Linked DNA regions of Homo sapiens. The protein of the gene in region 2 interacts with the protein of the main gene of each other region in a biochemical or structural test. Each region holds a gene or a part of one and is shown on either strand. Other genes may lie near its edges.

The links.
Region 1: the proteins of FRA10AC1 (region 2) and MAP3K12 form a complex in vitro, tested with the Homo sapiens proteins (one study listed by BioGRID).

The regions. Positions count from the first base shown.
Region 1 is NC_000012.12:53,479,169-53,482,760, forward strand, and holds the end of MAP3K12 (mitogen-activated protein kinase kinase kinase 12), read right to left. Parts: coding exon 3,397-3,592; coding exon of another isoform or gene 3,331-3,396; exon of another isoform or gene 3,202-3,330; coding exon 3,131-3,201; intron 3,044-3,130; coding exon 2,773-3,043; intron 2,113-2,772; coding exon 2,014-2,112; 3' UTR 501-2,013; downstream 1-500. Other genes in the region: PCBP2 (poly(rC)-binding protein 2), read left to right, coding at 238-274.
Region 2 is NC_000010.11:93,699,304-93,706,724, forward strand, and holds the start of FRA10AC1 (protein FRA10AC1), read right to left. Parts: upstream 3,290-7,421; 5' UTR 3,072-3,289; exon of another isoform or gene 2,871-3,071; intron 2,493-2,870; exon of another isoform or gene 2,373-2,492; intron 804-2,372; coding exon 727-803; intron 1-726. UniProt on the Homo sapiens protein: May be involved in pre-mRNA splicing.

The DNA.
Region 1 (3,592 bases), on a different chromosome or scaffold from region 2:
GTTTGAGGGACATTGGATAACAAGGGCTGTTTCCCTTGGTTCTGAGGTAATAGACCTCCACATGCTTGAATTGCAAGGATTAAAGGATCATGGTACTGGTAAATTTAAGAAACCTTAAAATGTCTCCCTTGGTACTCCAGCACTGGTTATTTACTCTTCACATTTCATGAACCAGGTAGAGATGAGGTGCAGCTGAGCACTGGGGAAACTAACTGAGTTCTTGTTTCTGTGTTACAGGCTTTCCTCGGAGACGGGTGGCATGGGGAGCAGCTAGAACAATGCAGATTCATCCATAATCCCTTTCTGCTGTTCACCACCACCCATGATCCATCTGTGTAGTTTCTGAACAGTCAGCGATTCCAGGTTTTAAATAGTTTGTAAATTTTCAGTTTCTACACACTTTATCATCCACTCGTGATTTTTTAATTAAAGCGTTTTAATTCCTTTCTCTGTTCAGCTGTTGATGCTGAGATCCATATTTAGTTTTATAAGCTTCTCCCTGGTTTTTTTTTTTTGGCTCATGAATTTTTCTGTTTGTCATGGAAATGTAAGAGTGGAATATTAATACATTTCAGTTTAGTTCTGTAATGTCAGGAATTTTTCAAAAAAATTAAAAGATGGACTGGAGCTTTTTCTTTGTGAATAGAAACTGGATGCCACAGTGATTCATGTGGGTTTTATTCCTCTTGTCTTGCTGTTATTTTTGTACCTTTTATCCCTCAAAGGACCCTTCTTGGGTTTTGAATGGAAGCCTTTATTCCGGTTAAGATGTTTTCTTCTATTTTACCACTTCCATCTTTTTTTGTGGCCCTCGATCCTATTTTTCCCTGACTCCATGCTTGGTTGGCCCTTATAAAACTTGTGCCCAAAAGATTGAGGATTAGACTTTCCGAGGACTTACCTGTCCTAGGGGAGTAGGCAAGCACTTCCACTAGGGAGGGGGTGGGGGAAAGGAATGACACATGACATACATGGCATACACATTAAGCAGTTGATCATATGTCTGACTGGGTTCCAGTTTCTTGGGAATGTTGGTCCCCTTGTTCAGGCTTGCATATTTTAAACTAAAAATTTCAGTCTATTGTTTTTAGTAACTTCATTTATAGTCCTCCATAACAAGTTAGAAGGATGTATCTGCTACCATTTATTCCTATAATTTTAGAAAGTTGGGGCTTGACATTATACTCATTTAGTGAGAGTAGATGCAAAAAAGTGGAGGGGCAGGAGAACTTCTCCAGACACCTCAGATAAAGTCCGGAGCCCAAGGCTTTATCTTAACCATGTATGGTACCCCATTCATTCATCAAGAAAACCCTCAACAGCTGGGCCTGCATGGAGTGTTATATTTCAAGGTTTTTCACAGGGGTTACAGTAGGACAGTCCCCACCCCAATCAGGCACCAGGATAAAAGCAGGGACTTAAACAGCACCCCGGTTCTTCAGCCTGAGCCATCACATGCTATCAGTCTCCTAACCTCCCCCTGGGCCTTAAGACAGGGCTTGGGCAGAGAAGATAAATGGTGGGACAAAAAAATGAGTTACATTGCCACCTGAGAAACCTCAGAGGGGAGGACCCAGCCTTAGCCTCCCTCCTCCCAAGTGCAAAATGTGTAAACAGAGTAAACGGAACAGAAAAGTGCAGTCTAAGTGGTTTTCTCTCCTGCCCCTCCCACCGCCCCTCCCCCCACCCCCTATTATTTGGGGATAAAGAATATAAAGACAACCCTGGCTTTTCTATTGCCTTGTTGCTTGCTGAATATAAGGAATGGGGTGGGGCAGGAAGGGGCTTGCCCTTAGCCACAGCTCTACGGCTGTGCCTCATTCATTTCCACAGCTGCCAGTGTCCCTAGAGTTTATCAGGTGAATTGGTCAGGGGATCAGTCTCCCTCGAGCCTGACTTACGGCTGGGACAGCCCCATCTTTCTGTTGATTATGTGGCGCATATATATATATATATGTATATATATATAATTTATATAAATATTTCTCTATGTACAAGGAATACGAGTGGCTTTCATGGAGGGAGGGAAGCTGGGGGCCGCAAGGCATCAACGCTGTTGGAGTTGTCCAATTCAGTGCTGTCACAGTCTGAGTCCTCAGAATTGGGAGGGCCCTGTGAGAAAGAGTAGAAATGGAGTGAGATTCCTTGGGGTTCTTTGCTGGGGTCATTTTAATAGCCAGTGGCTTACTGATTTGTTTTTTAAGACAGAGTCTCACTCTCGCCCAGGCTGGAGTGCAGTAGCACAATCTCGGCTCACTGCAACCTCTGCCTCCCAGGTTCAAGCAATTCTTCTGCCTCAGCCTTCTGAGTAGCTGGGACTACAGGCATGCACCACCACGCCCAGCTAATTTTTGTACTTTTAATAGAGATGGGGTTTTACCATATTGGTCAGGCTGGTCTTGAACTCCTGACCTTGTGATCCACCCGCCTCGGCCTCCCAAAGTTCTGGGATTCCAGGCGTGAGTCACCATGCCCAGCCAGCTTACTGGTTTTATTCCTTCCAGATTTCAGTTGCTCAGGCCATTCTCCAAGGTGTCAGACTCCTTTCAGAATCATTCCCTGGCTGCAATTTATAGCTACATGCAAGCTACTGGTCAGGCATCGTAATAGATGCTCTGTGCAAGAGGCTTCTGAAATTCCACCACGTGGATATTTGCTCTTTATGGTACTTTCTGGCCTGTGCAGCTGTCTCCCCAAAAGCTGTTAAAAGACAAGGCATCTGCTTACAGCTCTCCCTGTTCAATATCTGCTTTTTGCTGTTGTGCCACTCACCCGCTCTCTGAGAAGTTCCTGGTGTGGAATGGGCAGGGAGCTGGGTTCAGGGCCAGGGATGACCTCTGAAGGAGGTGGGTCCAGTGGGATTTCTGAGCCCTGGGAGCACATGTCATCAGACCGCTCATCTGGCCGCTCATCAGTGTTGGTGCTGCCAACTTCAGGTGTGCCACTGGGGGAAGGTTCACTAGCTGTGCCTTCCTCCCCATCTGATGGATTCTCTGAGCTGAAGGTAGATAGTGACTGGCGCATGTTCAGGCTCTGAGGCCACCTACATGTTGAAGAGGGGGATTACAGCTTGGTTCTGCCCCTAGCAGAAAACAAGAATGCCATTAATTCTTGTAATGCCATCACTTACCTCTGGCTTGATGTCAGCTCTACTTCACTGTCTACCTCTCCTTCCTCCTCTTCCGATGAGATGCCACGTTTCTGCAGGAGAGATGGGGTGGGGGGGGTCTGATTAGAAGTGGAAAGAGGTCACTAAGAATCCAGGAGAAGGGAACATAGTTACGAAGGGTGAAGTAGGGAATGGCTTAAAATTGAGCATAATGTGGGGGATTAGACTTGGACCCCAGGGAGGATAAGGAAAAAGGGAAAGAGCTTGGGAGCCTTCCCATACTTTACCTGACTTCGGGTGACGGCAGCCCTGTACAGCAGTGCAGCTGGGGTCAAGTGCTGGGACCCAGCCCGGCTTCCTCCCCGGCCTGAGGTCCCTTCCCTTCCAGTTCCCAGAAGCCCCACACCTTCACCAGGCCCTACTGGAGGAGGTGGTTCCCCTTTGGCTCCCCCAGGTGAATCTGGGCTGGTGGAGCCAGGGGCT
Region 2 (7,421 bases):
GCCTAATATATTGCTCTCAGTGTGAAATAATAAGCCAATTTCTATACATTTGCTTAAAAAAATCAGTCAACAGCCGTGTAAGTTTGGTTAGTATACATCAGTCAACCACTCCTGAGTCAAAGTATAAAACTGAGTTTCTATGCACTGAAAGCTAAGAACAATGCTCCTACGCACAGCAGCTCCACCAAGACGTATCCTGCTTATAACGCACAGGCTTTATGTGCTAAGAGTTTTTGTCTCTTGCAATTCAAAAAAACCTTCCTTGAGTTTCTTCCCGTGACCTTAGTCTGCTCATTCACGTATGCGTAAGAACTGTGCTGCATTATACTTTCATCCTCCATATTAACTTCACTTTGAAGGCAAGTAATGGCAAGAGACCACCATTCAAGCCCCTTCTGAGCTACAACATTTACAAATAAACAGTCCTTGACAGTTGAATGAAAAATATATGTAATGAAAAGGTTTCACTGATTTCTGAAAAGATTCCAGAAATCTGAAACTCTTCTTTCCCTTTCAATAAACCCCTTTGCAGAATTAATTTTTATTTTTCCCACAATTGTTCTCCAATTTTTAATCAATGTATTAGCTTAATGAACAAAAATTCATTCACTAGAGCAATTGTCTTCACATGTAAACAGAATTCAAAAATTTCACTCTTGTTTATTTATACTTCATATTAATCTAGAAAGGATGTGAAAAATAGATCAATAAAAAAAAATTACTTACCTTTTTTTCCTTTTGCTGGATTCTCCACAGCGTTCATCATCACTAAAATCAGAATCATAGCCTCCATGACCATGCATCTGTAAAGGAGTACAAAGTCAGCTATTTAGAATCTATGTTGCCAATTGTCCAGGAAACAATAATTCAAAAATAAGTTATCTTAAACAGCCACAATAGTTTTAAAGGATCATTGTGGGCAGATTCCTATTCACAGGCCATCTAGCCATCTAAAACTTTCATTCGCTTTTAAATAAGAGACATACCTTTCAGGAAATGCATCAACATTTTTCACCCTTAATTATCATTAGGTGAACAAAGAAGGCTACTCTTTGATCTTTTCACTGAAAAACCAGGCCTAAAAGCTGCAGTGACTGCTTACAAGGTTTAGCAATCCTTCACTTTTGATTCAGAGTAGTAATAATCACTGTGTGTTTATCACCAACTTTGTTCTAGACATTGTGTTAAATACTTTACAAACAACACTTCTAATTCTGCAAGTTAGAAAGTTATCTTCATTTAGGAATGAAGTAATCAAAGTTAAGTAAATCTATTTACAAATCCAGTAAGTGGCTAATCTGCTGTACTTGATTCCTGCGCCCACAATTTCAATTACTCCAAATTTCCTCTCTGGAATATGATTTACTATATTCCAGGAGAATTACAGTATTTGTGAACAGTACATCATCAATTGATGAAAATTTTCCTGTAATCTTTTTCAATATATGTAGAGATTTCCATTTTCTTTTGAGTTTCTTTAAGGTAAACCACCTTGCCCTTTGGATTAGTCAGCTTTCTCTTGTTTCATTTTATTTATCCAGTTATTTTTGGAGAGTCTCGCTCTATTGCTCAGGCTGGAGTGCTGTGGCGCCTTGATGGCTCACATCCTCAACCTCCTGGGCTCAATCAATCCTCCCACCTCAGCCTCTCCAAGTAGCTGAGACTACAGGAGTGCATAATCACACCTGGCAAACTTAAAAAAATTTTTTTTTTGTAGATAAGGGGTTTCGCCATGTTGCCCACGCCGGTCTCAAACTCCTGGGCTTGAGCAATCCGTCCACCTCAGCATCCCAAAATGCTGGGACTTCATTTTAGAACTGAAATTCTTAGAAATGCTGGAAGACCTCAGTTGCCACTCAATTGTATTGGAAGAAGCTCCTAGTTCCAGCTTTGCACTGAATTTGGAACACACACTAAGAAGGAAGGATGGACTATTTGATGTCATACATAACTAATTTACATGGCTGGAAGGAACAGTCCAGGTTAAATGATATATCAAATTGTTAAAACTAATATAACGACAGCAAGTGCAGCTGGAAAAAGAGGAAAGAACTCTCTAAACTTCATTGCATTGGATCTAGGGTAAACGACATGTTTCTAGTCCTGGCTACCTTGAATAAGTCATTTCATCTCCCTGGACTTCATCTATTAAATAAGATAGCTACATGAAATAATCTTTAAGTTGTTTAAATCTTTAAATAACCTTTAAAGTCTGTAATTCCATTTTCAAACATAGGTGTGTGGGTATATACCTCTCTTCTCTGCCCCACTAAAATCCTAGATAGGAAGATGCTAGTTAAGGTTGGAGATGAAGGTTTGAAAGCCCGAGTTCCAACTCTACCCTCCCTTACATCTGTTATTGCCTTACACACCTGGATTTTACACCCTTTTTTAGGTCAACTCCAGCTGTCTTACCACATCTGTTCAAGCCATATTGTCCTCTCACTCTTTGTCCTATGTCCTCACGTTCTTTACATCTTGATGGGGGACAGCTGTAGTGTGTTTAGAGATATATTCTAGGATCAGCCTACTAGATTTCACTGCTTGGCTCTGCACTTTCCATTTGTCTTTCTTTGGGCCTGTTCCTTAACCTCTCCAAGCCTCAGTGTCCTCATTTATAAAAAGAGGCTAGTAAGATGGCTGACCTCATACGAATGGAGATTAAAAGAGTTGCCTCATCTAAAGGGTTTTAACGGTGTCTTGTACAGTGAAACCCAGTAAATGTTACATCATCATCATCATCTTTTCCCTCGCCCCAGGACACGACTTCCTATTCTTGCTCCCACTCTCCCATTTCTTTATTCGCTGGCCGCTCCATCCGACCCATACCTATCTTAACTCACTGGTTGAACTAAAAAGCTCTCACTCACTTCAGGCCTACGAATCAACTGACAAGAGCGGGGAGAAACTCAAAAACGGAGATGCCAGGTGTCTCCAGAATCTGTCATCCAAAAAAAAAAAAACCAAACCAAAACAAAAAAAAACCCGACGATCAGCTAGTACTATATGAAAAACAAGTTTTGAGGTCCTTCTCCCTGATGCCAAATATACCCACAGCCCTCCTCACACACCCTTTCCCTTCCTCCCTGTGTGCCAAGTTCGCCCCCGGAGTCGTCGTTTCCTTCTTTCCCGGCAGCTGCAGCGACGACCCACGGCCTGAGAGAGCCGCTGCAGCACAGGTCCCGTGCGCCCTGCCGCACAGCCTCGCCACAACCACCACCGCCGCCGCCGCCGCCGCCGCCGCCCGCAACCCGCCTCTCCCTACGGGTCCCGACTGGGCACCACTTCCGGTCCGACACGGCCACGTGTTACATCTAAATGGCACCGTCCCCCGAGTGCGCCGACCTTGTGCTACAGCCAGAACAGCTCCGGGAAACAAGGGCAGCGGGAGAAACGGCCCGGAAAGGGACGAAGAGGCTTCCAGCTTTCGCCAAGTCGCGGCTCCCAGTTTTTCCCTGGGCCTCCTTCCTTTCCCCTCTAGGGAATCCGGCATCTAGTACCGCTGGCACTGCTTGCTGCTTAGCCCACGCCTCTCATTTGAAAATATATTTTGTTTTACCGTGCCTATCACCTGCCGTCCTCTCTCTAGTAACCTTAGTAACGCCTCCTCGGAGGATCCTCTCAGAGCAGCTCATCAGCGCTTCAGATCAGCCTCTCCCTCCTTCCCCCAGTAAAACAGTTCTCATAATTAGAACAAAAATATCTCTCCATCGTTTCGCCACCCACACAATAGATACCATTCCAAAAGCAGTGCTGATGGCAGAAGAGCTCATCGAATTTGTGAGGAAAGAAAGAATAGGAGGAGAGATTTCTCAGGGTTGAGGATTCTCTGCCGACAAGCGACCTGGCACATGCGAAAAGGGATCCAAAATAGAATCTTAAAAAGAAGAAGAAAAAAGGCAGGAAAAGTTGGATTATTTTAAGCGCCACTAGGTTCTTCCTGTGCTTTGCGTTTTCTACATCACGACGCCCCACTCTTTCCACTCTAGTTGTTTGGTTCATGTCTTGTCTCTCGCTGGCATTAGCAGCTATTCATTTTTTGCTTCCTCCTCAGTACCCAAAACGGTGCCTTGGAAATCACAAGTGCTAATTAAATATTTGTTGAATTGAACTGGCACGCTTCTGGCGTTTACAGTGGGCCCTTTTTAGAGAAAACCTTGGCACTTAATGCACAGTCATTTTACATCTTTTGCCCTAAACAGTAGATAACGATATCCTTATCAGTTCAAGTCTCTAACCCTGACAATAAATTATAGATACATTCTGCTTTATCCATTGCACTGAATGTGATCTTAAAAGGCTATAAGATAAATTAAATTATTGTAAATTAACTTATTCCAAAATGCAATCAGATTATACTTCAATAAAAACTTTTACTAAAAAAAGTGAAAGCAATAGGAAGCCTTACAATTTGACGTTATAGTATATGGAATTATTTTGTCAAGCAGTTTCTTTTTTGGTAAATATATTAAATATATAATTATTTTATTGTTAATAAAACTAAACAGACCTATACCTCATATCCAATTTCCTTTCTATCCATATTTGACATTTATTAGCATTTTTCTACCATCCCTAGCATCTTCTTGTTTGTTGCTTCATTTTACTCTTCCAACAACCCTGTGCTGCTGTGTTATTAGCCTCATTTTACACATAAGGAAGAGAGGCACAGAACCTAAAGCCACAAACCTGGTGAGGGTCGAGAACTGGGTAGTACTTGTGTCTGTCTCTCTATAAGACCCAGTTTCTCTCTCTCTCTTTCTCTCTTTTCTCTCTCTCTCTCTGTCTCTCTCTCCCCCACTTCATGGATTGTGTGGGAAGTAGCTTCTGGTTCCAACATTTCTAAGAATTTCAGATCTGTTGCTACCAGTCCATTCAGGCAAAGATTTCCATTTTTTACTTTGAGACAGCAGTTACTGAAAAAGAGTAAATAGAAAATATATATTAGGCATAGATTGCATGATCTGAACTAGAAATAATACAGGATAGAAAACCCACCTGCTTAGGAAATCTCAAGTTAACAATTATAGCTCAACAACAATAAAAAACACAAACATTTATTCAGTGCCTACTCTGGGCAGGACACTGCCCTAGACATCAGGGTTACAGGTATGTAACAGCAACTCCTTATCCTTGAAGGTTGACTAGTAAGACAGACAATGTGTGGAATAACTACAACAATATATTCTATCATATACCAAGTGTCTAGTACATGCATGAACCTGTTGTTCCTAATTTATAAAATATGTTATTTCAATGGATATGAAAATTTAAATGTGCACCAATGCTATGTAACTCAAAGCAACAAAATACTATATTAAGTATGTGGTCAGGATGAGGGAAGTTGGGTGATGATGGTGGTGATAATACCAAGTAATAATTCTGATATAAACTATGACTGTGCATTCTTTTTTATTCAAGACCGAGTCTCACTCTGTCACCCAGGCTGGAGTGTAGTGGCGTGATCTCAGCTCACTCCAACCCCTGCCTCCTGGGTTCGAGCAATTCTCCTGTCTCAGCCTCCCGAGTAGCTGGGACTAGAGGCGCACACTACGCCCGGCTAATTTTTGTATTTTTTTACTAGAGATGGGGTTTCACCATGTTGGTCAGGCTGGTCTCGAACTCCTGACCTCAGGTGATCCACCCACCTTGGTCTCCCAAAGTGCTGGACTTACAGGCGTAAGCCACCGCGCCCAACAAATGTGCATTCTTTCTTTTCTTTTCTTTTTTTTTTTTTTGAGACAGGGTCTCACTTCATCACCCAGGCTGAAGTATAGTGGTGCCATCTCAGCTCAACCTCCACCTCCCGGGTTCAAGCCATTCTCCTGCTTCAGCCTTCCCAGTAGCTGGGACTACAGGTGTGAGCCACCATGCCTGGCTAATTTTTGTATTTTTAGTAGAGGCAGGGTTTCACCATGTTGGCCAGGCTGGTCTCGAACTCCTGACCTCAAGTGATCCCGCCTTGGCCTCCTAAAGTGCTGGGATTACAGGGGTGAGCCACTGCGCCTGGCTGAATATGCATTCTTCTAATACTGTGTGTCTTTGAGAAGATTGCATTTTCCATGTTCTTTTTATAATATGATGCTGACACTTCTCTAACATAAGCTAATACCTATGGCCACAGCTTTGAATCTGGGCATGTCAGTGACTATAGCAGAAGTAATGCTAAGACACTTCTGATGCTAAGTTGCAAAAGGTGTTAGAGCTTCTGCCTGGGTTTGTCACTCTACTTCTTTAGCTGACATGGAGTGGAGCAGAGATGAAGTAACTTCACTGAGCCTCACCCAGATTGCAGACTAATAATCAGAATAAGTATAATTGTTTCAAGCCACTAAGACTTTGAGGTTGTTTGTTATATACCGATAAATATCCAGAACCATCTGCTGTCTCACTTAACCTCCATAACATTTGATGTTATGGAGCCACGCTGGGCTTTCTTTGTTTCTTCAACATGCATGCCTCTTCAAATTTACCATTTCCTCTACCCGGAATGGTCTTAAACCCTTTCTGTTTGCCTCCCTAACTCCTCTTTATCCTTCAAAACTCAACTTAGGTGAAGGAAAGGCCTTTCATGAGCATCTCTCCCACAGACTAGATAGGATTACTGATAATATGCACATTACTTTCCATTGCACTTAGCTACATACGTAGTAATAATTTAGCCCTGTTTCCCTCACTGAGATGCAAGCTCCACAATGGCAGGAAGCATACCTCTCTTTTTCAGTGTGGAATCCCCAGTGCTCAGCACAGTGCCAGACACATGATAGTTGCTCAGAATATTTATTGAACAAATGAAGTGGGTACTATTATTATCCCTATTTTACAATAAGAAAACAGATTTTTTTAAAAAAATTATATAACACTTCCAGAGTCATGAGTAAGCAAATGGGGCACAAATATAAGTGACTTCAAAGCTCACACCATATATATGTGTGTGTGTGTGTGATATGGTTTGGCTCTGTGTCCCCAGCCAAATCTTATGTTGAATTGTAATCCCCAATGTTAGAGGTGGGGCCTAATGGGAGGTGATTGGATCATGGGGGTGGTTTCTAATGGTTTACCACCATCTCCCTAGTGCTGTCTTGTGATAGAATTTTCAAGAAATCTGGTTGTTTAAAAGTGTGTAACACCTCCCTCTTTGCTCTCTTTCTCCTACTCCTGCCATGTAAGACATGTCTGCTTCCTCTTCACCTTCCACTACGATTGTAAATTTCCTGAAGCCTCCCCAGCCGTGCTTCTTGTGCAGCCTGTAGAACTGCGAGTGAATTAAACCTCTTTTCTTTACAAATTACCCAGTCCCAGGTAGTTCTTTATAGCAATGTGAGTACTAATACTAAATATATACATATATATATACACACACACATATATGTATATATAGAGAGAGATAAGTAGAGAGAGAGTGTTATCTCTCTGTTGCC